2 linked regions of the Homo sapiens genome follow. The protein of the gene in region 2 purifies or fractionates together with the protein of the main gene of each other region. This does not show direct contact. Each region holds a gene or a part of one and is shown on either strand. Other genes may lie near its edges.

Evidence for each region.
Region 1: the proteins of ANKRD22 (region 2) and USO1 purify together in Homo sapiens (co-immunoprecipitation; 2 studies listed by BioGRID and IntAct, with this or other methods). This does not show direct contact.

What each region holds. Positions count from the first base shown.
Region 1 is NC_000004.12:75,811,562-75,814,810, reverse strand, and holds the end of USO1 (general vesicular transport factor p115), read right to left. Parts: intron 2,652-3,249; coding exon 2,436-2,651; intron 1,606-2,435; coding exon 1,516-1,605; 3' UTR 525-1,515; downstream 1-524. UniProt on the Homo sapiens protein: General vesicular transport factor required for intercisternal transport in the Golgi stack; it is required for transcytotic fusion and/or subsequent binding of the vesicles to the target membrane.
Region 2 is NC_000010.11:88,848,835-88,856,172, forward strand, and holds the start of ANKRD22 (ankyrin repeat domain-containing protein 22), read right to left. Parts: upstream 3,011-7,338; 5' UTR 2,774-3,010; coding exon 2,753-2,773; intron 1-2,752.

The sequences.
Region 1 (3,249 bases), on a different chromosome or scaffold from region 2:
TTCTTTAACCGTACGTTAGCCTGAAAGGTAGTCATTAACTCATGGTTCATTATGTGGTTGTCAACTTTAGGAAGACCTCACCTATCTGAGCTGGTCTGGTGACAGTAATATAGTTCTTTCTCTGATGGCAAGTGCCACCTTAGGATGGCAGTAGTGGTGGAACATGGGCACAGTGCAGCATTCACGAGTGCTCTGTAACACACAGCTGTCTCCTTCATCAAGACAGTGACCTTCCTTCTCTTTCAAAAGTTGTGTCCTATTCCTGACCCCAGAAGGCAGATAAATACGTTATTTTCTAGCCCAGGCTATCTTGTCTTTAAGTAAACCCACTTCTTCAACAGGAAATCATTGCCAAGAACTCCAGTGCTGAATTTAAAAACGTCCAAACCCTTTTCCAACCTCTTCTACTTCTGTACTTCTAACCCCCTCCAATCTTAGGGAATCATAATCATTGGTTTTAAAGAAGATTGTTTTTAACATTCAGTTATAGTTGTGTACCCCTAATAAGAAAAGTCGCCTCATCATTTTCACTTGCCTCATCTTTTATTAAGAATAAAATACTTTTAAGATGTAAACAAAGGGAACCATGACCAAGGATTAAGTCAACGTATCTATTTTTATTATGAAACATTAAATTTTGACACATTGCCTCATTTGCTTTTTTAAAATCTATTATCTGACTTAAACCTATTCAGCAAAAATGCCAATAAATTATATTAATCATACTTTGGGTCTTTTTAAAACTAGGAACATAATATGTTTTATGATAAACAATACTACTAAATCTGAGTTGTATGAACTGTTAACTTGAAATTTGTTTTAGATGTTTAGCTTAAAACAAAAAGAAAACCAATCACATTAATACACTGTTGCAAAAGTTTCTCCGGAATGCCCTCCACATCACTGTGTGTCAGCATCCTTCGGCTTCTTCACTGAGGTATGGAATGCAGCCATATGTAGGTGTCAAGGCACTCATTCTAAGCTGTCCTATCCTGCACATCTTAGCAATCACATTAGATGGAGGGCTGATGATATGCACTAACTCCCAACCCAGGCTATCTTGCTTTTAAATAAACTAATTTCTTTAAAAGAAAATCATCAACTAAGGACTCAAATGCTGAATTTAGAAATAATAATTCCAATTCAATACACATTCAATCAAATGTGTTAGTACTTAAAAGTCACAAATTTTGCAAAGTAAACAACGAATGAACTAAGGCAAATAGCATTGTCACCACATGCCTTAAAATGGTATATTTTTGGTGTTTGAAGCTCTTTGCAAATTACATTTTGGGACAGTTCAGATGGATTTAAATAAAAGATGTGTGTTCTACATAAATTCAGTTTTAAGGTTTTCAACATGGGTGGCAACATTACAAAAATATATCAATAGTCTTAATAGTGAATGTTTTCCACCTGGTTTCTAAATCTTTATTTTCCATGGAGGTAAACCAAAGTTTAGAGTCCATCTTCAGAGTTATGATATAATCTCTATTGTTCCTAGAGATTTGAAAACTAGATATGATCTAGATCCTTGCCAGGATCTTCACTTTCATCATCCTCATCCTCTTGGTCTCCAGATTCAAGTTCATCCTCTTCTTCAACCTAGAGGAAAAAGACGTATTTAATATTGTGAAAATCTGTTCATGTCACATTCAACATTTAACAATATATACTACTGATAATTTTTTTTTTTTCTGAGATGGAGTTTTGCTCGTTACCCAGGCTGGAGTGCAATGGTGCGATCTCGGCTCACTGCAACCTCTGCCTGCCAGGTTCAAGCGATTATCCTGTCTCAGCCTCCCGAGTAGCTGGGATTACAGGTGCCTGCCACCAAGCGCCCTGCTAATTTTTGTATTTTTAGTAGAGATGGGGTTTCACCATGTTGGCCAGGCTGGTCTCGAACCCCTGACCTCAGGTAATCTGCCCACCTCAGCCCCCCAAAGTGCTAGGATTACAGGTGTGAGCACTGTGCCCAGACAAATTTTGTATTCTAGTAACTACAGTAGAATATAAGCCATCTGATTTCTTTGATTTGATGCCAAGGCTCTCTGTCATTTCTAATATGAATGAGATATATCAGTTAACTTTGCTGATAAATGGCTACACCTCTTTACACACAAATCTGAAACAAACATGGCAAAAGATAATGACATGCTTGGGTGACTACAGTCTTGTTACCAATCAAATCAATTCACTTTCTAGGCTTACGGTCCAAAAGAAAATAGTCTGTAAGTACTGAAAACTGAACCTAATCTGTGTATTAAGTAAATTCAATGAAAACAGTGAAAACAGTATAGATGGTACCATATTCATGAACCCACATATCCATTCCTATAATACAGGCACAACTTTTCCATGTTACATTAAAAATCTTTTAAATGCATTATACTAAAACATAATACAAATCATTTTTGGAGACATTTTAATCTTACTGGATGACCAAGATCCTTGAGTTTATTCTTCAATGACAGTATTTTCTGATCTTGATCGGCCAAGAGCACCAAGAGATCATCTTGTTCTTTTTTAGAATCTGTAATTTCCAACTCTAGTTTGTCTTTCTCAGTTTGTAAAATGGCAATGGTACTATTAGATGAATCCAGCTGCTCTTTAATGGCAGTTCTTTCCTCAGACAGAGCTTTAATTTCATTCTAGGAAAAGAAAGGTGAAAGGCAGGAATCTAAAATTAGCACTCACTTTCCTAGAGTTTTTAACAAATAGTTTCTTTCTATGACAAATCACTGTACTTGTTCAACCTAAGGAATTTAGGGGTGGAGGTTAAGGGTACAGGAGGTTTAACACACACACTAACATGAATTTATTAGACTGTTCATCAAAAATGGTTATTGCCAAAAAATAGTTTAACATCCAAAAAATAGTTTTAGTTAGCTATCCCTGAAAAAACCTTTAAGAGACTTAAAAAAAACAGTACCATTTCAGATAATCAAAGGAGTAAACAGAAACACAAAGCATTTTACAGAAGAAGTCTGATTAGTACCAGAATTTTAGAACTCAAAGCTCAAGTTAAAAAAAAATTTTTTATCCCAACTTCAAGCATACAATTAAATGAAAATAGCTTCAAATAAAAATCTATGGTTTAAAAATAAAATAATTTGGCCACAATCCAAAAAGCACAATTATACATTATTTTCCTTATTTTCCTTAATGTGACCTCATTCCTTTCTTCATGCTATTTATTCTGATGTCTCTGTCACACAATAATATGCTGACAGGATTTAATGTGCCTAT
Region 2 (7,338 bases):
TTTTCCAATAAAACTTGCTTGATCTAAATTGCTCTCCCTAGGCATTGTATATTTCAAGACAATCTTTCTGTTTTTTGAACTATATTTCCTTTTTCTGTAGTAACATCAGCTTCTCTGAAAAACATATCCATTGCCAAAGGATTAATTTTAAGTTTGTGTGTGTGCATGTGCATGTGTGTGTGTGTGTGTGTGTGGGTGTGTGTGCATCCTTTTACTTACAGCCTTATAATGAGAACTTCCCAATGTTTAAAGGAATACATCATTTAAGATATGATTTTCAAGAAACGCTTTTTGGGGCCTGTGTCTGCAACTGAAGAGACCAAAAGTCTGTAAAAGATTCTTTAAGTCTCCTAAGTATTAGTTCCTGAACTCTTTTAAGTTCTCAGCATTTTTCTTCTTTCCGATTTTTGTGCTACTTCACAATGCAACAGTTCTCTGTTGCAAGGTAGCAGTAGAATGTACCTCATTGGACCTGGATTTAGTTTACTCATTCTTTCCACTAAGGGAACAGGGCACCATCCTGGTTAGAACAGTGGCAGAACACCAGAGTGGTTAAGACCAATTCTCTTATGGAGCATGACATATCTGTTGAAATAACAAGTAGTAGAAAAATTTAGTAGTTCAGCAGTGATGTAAGAAGAATCTCTTTGAATGAGTAAACACAGGACTCATCCTAGCCACCAATCTCCAGCCAATAAGCACTTTTCAACTGTGTAACTATGAGCCAGTGACTACCTTTTCCTCAGTTTCTTCATTTGTAAAATAAGGATACTAAAAGTGACTCTTACAAGATTGCTGTATTAAATGAGTTAATACATATATAAAGTGCTTAAAATAGGGCCTAATCTATAAGAAGCCCTAAATACATGTTTGTTGCTATTGTAAATATTATGAACAAATACCTTTGATAAGGGTTTAAATGAATCAGCCTTGTTTAAAAGTCCATCTTACGCAGTTGGAGTTACTTATTCAAAATTAGGGCCTCTCACTGAGCTCTAAGCTTATCCTCTAGTGCAGATTTCAGGACCAGCTCTCTGGGATCCTCCCTCATTCTCTCCTTCTTTCTTAAAAATATATATTGCATAACTATTAGCACTGCAAAGCTCTAAGGAAAAATGATAACCCTATGTCCCCAATCTAGAGGAGCTTCCCGCACTCAAATTGGGGGAAGTTTTTTTTTTTTTTTTGAATAGATTCTTCCAGGCAACATAGGACCAGGGATCCAGCAGGCTTTTTTCTTGTCCTTAATGAGTAGCTCACAATCTTTATCCTTAGGAAACACAGAGCAAATGATATATTACAAATGAGTAGGCTATGTTTAAATATTTAAGAGATTACTATTTAATTTTAAAGAGTCTCAAACTCTTTAAAACTATAGATGAAAGGTCCTACTTCCAACTTTCTACATCAGAATACCTGAGGATGAGACTAGGCTTTTTTTTTTCCTTTTTCCAAATCACATATAATTCCCACATGCAATCTGAAAAAGCAACCAAAATGCAGAATCTTAGGTCCCACCCAGGTCTACAAACTAAGAATCTGCATTTAAACAAGACCTTCAGAAGATCTGTATAGACATTAAAAACGGGAAAGCACTGGCCTGTGGCAGTCTTTCTTTCTCAGGATGGTGGTAAACAGATCACCCCTATGTCAGAACCACCTGGGATGCTCCTTTTAAAAAGTATACTTTTGTATCCTACCATAGACTGAGTGAAACAGACTCTCTGGGTTGGAGTCCCTTGAAACTGCATTTCAAACAAACTTCTCTCCCTGACACTTGGGCAGTCTAAAGTTTGAGAGTTACCAGAGTAGCATTTAAAAGCACTATATGTTTTGTCATTTTCATGTATATGATCCCTTCATGAGGCTAAAATCACTGAGCAAGACATACCTAGAGTTATAAACCAATCAAACACTGCATTTGCACACACGGAGAGATATATACACACATGGCATTAGAAATAACTGCAAATAAACTGTCTTTAATACTAGATCAAAACTATCCAAGAAGGTTCCCCTGAGCATCTGCAATGAAATGCAGATTAACCAGTTAATTGTGTCAGAGGAGAGAGAGAGTAAATTATGTATAATGACATCATTACACCTCTTGTACTCTTGTCTAAACATTCCTTGCTTGTACTTTCTTGAAACATCATTAAAAATCCATTTGATTCTAATAAGTTACTTCCAATACAAGTAAAAGTACCTCAGTATTTATCAGATGTGAAAAGAAAATAATCAAATCATCAAAATATGTTATTATTCCTCTTCTTCATAGTGATAGTCTTTACTAATATTTACTAAAGGTGAATCTCCCTTCAAATACCAAGCTGAAAGGCATTACTCTGGTCATGTGGTTCCATAAAAGAGGCAGTCAATCTTTTGGATATTTAGAAAATCCAATTGAGTACAATTTTCTCTTTTTCTCTGAGTGTTTGTCATGAGAAAAGCACAACTCAAACTCGATTTTGTCCAAATTATCCTTGCAAACATCCAGATACTATGAAATGTGTATTATATTCATCTCAACTTAGATCTAGCTAATATTTTAGAATTACAAAATACTTTGTCTTAAACTATTAAGAATATCAACAAGAATAACACATAGGACTTTATTTTTTCTGACTTAATGCTCCCCCAGGGAGTTGAACAGACAAAACAGAAATATATTAACAGGGATAGAAAATTGCATCTGAAAAGCATGAGTAACTTTTAACATCTTTGGAACTCTGCTTTCAGAAAGGTGATGTACCTCAGAGTATAGGATTCCCATGCTGGTCCTTCACAGGCTTACTTCACCTCTACAGCTCCTTGAATCTTCTGGAGGTATTTCTGATGAATATCAAAATCCTTCCTGGCTGAGAGGAAAGTCCCTAGAAGTCCAAGCTGGTGGCAAGCTCCAGGAGTGCTTTTCTAGCAAACACCTGTCAGTGCTTTTCCAGCAGCTCAGGCAGCAGCACACCTTCCAGAGAGCCCAGCCCAATGAAACAAAGGCACTGGTGTCATGTGTAACGACCCAAGCCTGTATCATCTAATGTTACAACCCTGAGGAGCCGGTTTCTGAGTCATATTTGCTCTGCCAGTGGTAACATGCAGGAAAGAAGGAAGCAAAGTTAAGGGAGGAAGAAAAGTTCTTACATTGGCAGGAAGGACTCACGGTTCAAACCAAGATACTGTATTTCAGACATTTCGTAATCAAAATCTGGTTTTCAGTGGCCATTGAGAAAGGCTAGAGACCAACAAACTTACTTGTGAGAGCCACACGTGTCTGGCAAAGAACTTGAAAAATAATCTTCAAAATTCTCAGCCTAACAAGTAACGCTTTTCCAGCTATTTATGCAGTTTTGTAAACTAATAAATTTACTAACATAATAAATCTTAAGTTGTTTTAAATATTCCAATACTATTCACACATTTAGCCAAATTACTTTATAATATTCAATTTAAAAATCATAAGTCTAAAATCAAATACTCTGTTATGCATTTTAAATTGCATCATCAATTTATTTATCAAACATGCTAGTATGCCCAATCTCTTAAATATTGTAAACATTTTATATGCTATATATGATATCATTCACACATTTTCCTTGAACTGAATACAATCACATCAAACTTTCCCAGAATTGAAACACTCGACCGTCCACACACCCATTATAACCATGGGACCAGCCCAAATGGGCCGTACTTTGTTGATAACAAATGTCAATTTACTCTGTAGATATAACAGAGCCAAAAACTGTAAGTCATTTAGCCCAGGCATGCACAATAAAAATGTTTTTGCCTCTAACAGAACCTAGAACAAATGATCCCTCCCCTGGGAACCAAGAAGACAAGGACATGACGGGAACCTAAATGCAGGACCTCTTTCAGAAGCTAGGGGCTCATTGGCCCAAAAGATCCAGGGCTGAAATCTGCCTCAACATACCTTACCTTTAGTGGTCAAATTTGAAGCCCTTCAATCAGTCCCTGCCAAACCAACATTCCTAAATCCTTTCCCTCACCCTCTAAGCCATACATTTTCTCAGATTCCAAACTGGGGAGGCAGATTTGAGCCCACCTCCTGTCTCCTTGCTGACCTGTCTTGCAATAAAGTTTTTCTTTCCTCAAAACCCAGTGTCCAGATATTGGCTTCTGTGAGCAGGGGGCAGCAAGCCTATTTGCTCAATAATATCATGGAAGAAATAGTTCAACCATCTCAAACCAATTGATGTGATTTTCCCAATCAGTTGAGGCTCCTTAGTGGCCAGAAACTAGTGACCAGGATACTAGGCCTGTGCTTATAAATATTCAGGGAAATTCTTCTTACTCCACTGGTGGATATACTGAGCTATTTTTATAATTATTTCAAAGATTTTATGTTTCACTATGCAGTTGACATCGAGGCCAGCCTCTCTGGAGTTTAAGAATTAGCTAATTCTTCCGTTGGAGGAGAGGGAAGTCTGCAATACCCACTAAAATTGCAGCTGACTTCCTCTTTGGCTTGGTTTGATTTTGTATTTCTGTAGACTCTTAAGACATTTAAGTGTCTTCCCATTGACTTAGAAAAACATTAATGGTATATCCATTGGGTACTTCACTCTGTTATGCAATATTTTGTAACCTCTGGTAGCCTCTTTTGTAACCTCTTTCAACTAATTTGTGTGGACAGAACTCTTCACTGTCATTGCTTCTCTCCTAAGGTTGCTGCTAGCTTTCTTCTTCAAGCTCTTTCCTCCCTGACTGAGCTCTAAATGTTTCTTTAACTTTCAATCAGGATCAAAACTCATTTTATTAGATTCTGCATCTCTTGACAACATCTGGTTCTAAAGGAACAGTACTCATTATAATTGCAAATGATGTAGGGTTAGCTCAAAAAACAAACCAATGAAAAAAGCAGTTGACTCATTGTTATTTGTAAAACACTTGGATTTAACTCTAGGCCATTGGGTCTCAACCAGGGGTTATCTCGCCCCCAGATAGACTGCAGATTTAGCAACGAAAAAGATAAGATGTTCAGTTAAATTTGAATTTCAGATAAATTTCTGAAATGTCATATGGGACATACATACACTAAAAAATTATGTTGCTTAATGGAGAACGTCGTTTTATTGGAAACTAAAGACATTTGGCAATGTCTGGAGACATTTTTGGTGGTCACAACTAGGAGTGGGAGCATGGTACTCTAATGTGGGGAGCAGAGGCCAGGGAAGCTGCTAATCATCCTACAGTGCACAGGACAGCCTCTCAGAGCAAAGAATTACCCAGCTCAGAAGAGTGCTAATGTAGAGAAACTCTAGTCTAAGCCAAAAGGAGAATTAAAGGTGAAGGAAGAGGACTTCGTAAACTATAGTGTCAAATTGGAATACGGAGGCATATTGTCAGAATGAAGTTGGATAAACAGATATATTTTTAAGTGTTTAGGGTTCTTCCTCTGGCAATTTTGAGCCTATAATTACAAAGACAGGTAAAGAAAAGAAGTTCCAGAAAACAGCTTTCACAGGTAAATGTCTTCTGTCAAGAAATAACACTGTCAAGAAGACAAATGTCTTCTGTCAAGAAATAAACCTAGTGTTTAATCTGAATTAAACACTAGGGACTTAAAATTAGTGGCATCCTTTGATCCTGGCTGTAAATGCAGCCAACCTCCACTGACCAGCAGCCAACTGTCTGTGAGAGATGAGTCTCTTGTAAGGTGTATCCCAAAGACTTCCCCCCAAGAGGGGTTCAGTAGAGCATAACAAAGAAGTATAGTCCACAGAAACTCAGTTTTACGCTGATATCTTAATCCTTCAACATTATCTAACATTGTCCAACATTGACATTAGCAGTGGAAGTTATCTGAGTCACACGGCACCAAAATATGTCACCAGCCAGCAGTGAATCTGTGTGGGTTTGCAGCAAACTCAATTCTTGCCTTCTCAGAAGAAAGAATTCAACTGGGGGCCATAGGATGGAAGAAGAGACCAAGGCAAGTTTTAGAGCAGGAGCGACAGTTTATTAAAAAGCTTTAGAGCAGGAATAAACAAAGTAAAGTACATTTGGAAGAGGACCAAGTGGGCAACTTGAAAGACAAGTGTGCAGTTTGACTTTTGACTCGGGGTTTTTATACGTTGGCATACTTCCAGGGTCCTGCATTCCTTCTCCCCTGATTCTGCCCTTTGGTGGGCTGTCCACATGTGCAGTGGCCCACCAGGATTTGGGAGGGGAGCATGCACAGTGTGTTTACTGGAGTTGTATGCATGCTTACTTGAAGCACTCTTCTCTTACCAGCTGAATGTCCCTAGAAGGTAATATACCAGTTAAACTCTGCCATTCTGCCTCTTAATGTGCATGCTTGAACCCACTCGCCCAACTCCTGAGATCTTATCAGGAAGCTGCTGATCACCAGTTTCAAGTTTTTTCTGTCTATTGGGAGACTGCCTTTCCCTGGCACTGGCTGTGACCAATTGTTATTTTATATATATATATATATATATATATATATATATAATTTTTTTTTTTTTGAGATGGAGTCTTGCTCTGTTGCCCAGGCTGGAGTGCAGTGGTACAATCACAGCTCATTACAACCTCCACCTCCCAGGTTCAAGCGATTCTCCTGCCTCAGCTTCCAGAGTCGCTGGGATTACAGACACCTGCCACCTGTATTTTTGTATTTTTAGTAGAGACGGGGTTTCACCATGTTGGCCAGGCTGGTCTCAAACTCCTGACCTGAGGTGATCTGCCCACCTCGACCTCCTAAAGTGCTGGAATTGCAAGCATGAGCCACCACGCCTGGCCCTCAACTATTATTTTAGAGAGACGGTTAACAACCTCCTTACTATCACCTGATGTTCACCTGACATTCCTGGTGGGTGGGGGGAGCCCTCTCCTACTCTGCTCATGTCTGACTAGCTACTTACTGTAAAATTGGCTCCCATTGGAGAGATTTGAGTAGAGGAGTGTTGTAATCAGAATTTTATTTATATAATAAAGCTCACTCTGGCTGTTGTACAGAGAGTGGATCTGAGGCAGGAAAAAAGAAACAGCAACTAGTTAGGAGGTTATTGCATTAGGTCAGCTGCATGATAATAGTTACCTGGGGCAGAAGAGCAGCAGTGTGGATAGAGAGAATAGGATAAACTCTAGAGTTTAGGAGGTAGAAATAACAGACTTTGCCAACTATGAGTTATTAAGCTATCTCCTAGCATTGAACACACTTTTCTATGTTTGGTTCTTCAATGCCTACCCTGGCATTCTGCAAGCTAGCTTTTTTTTTTTCCTACTGGTATGTGGAGACAAAATTAACTTCATCTTGGATGCTAATCCACCATGTTGACTTCTCATTAACCCCAGTCCCATAAATGCCTTCGGATTCCT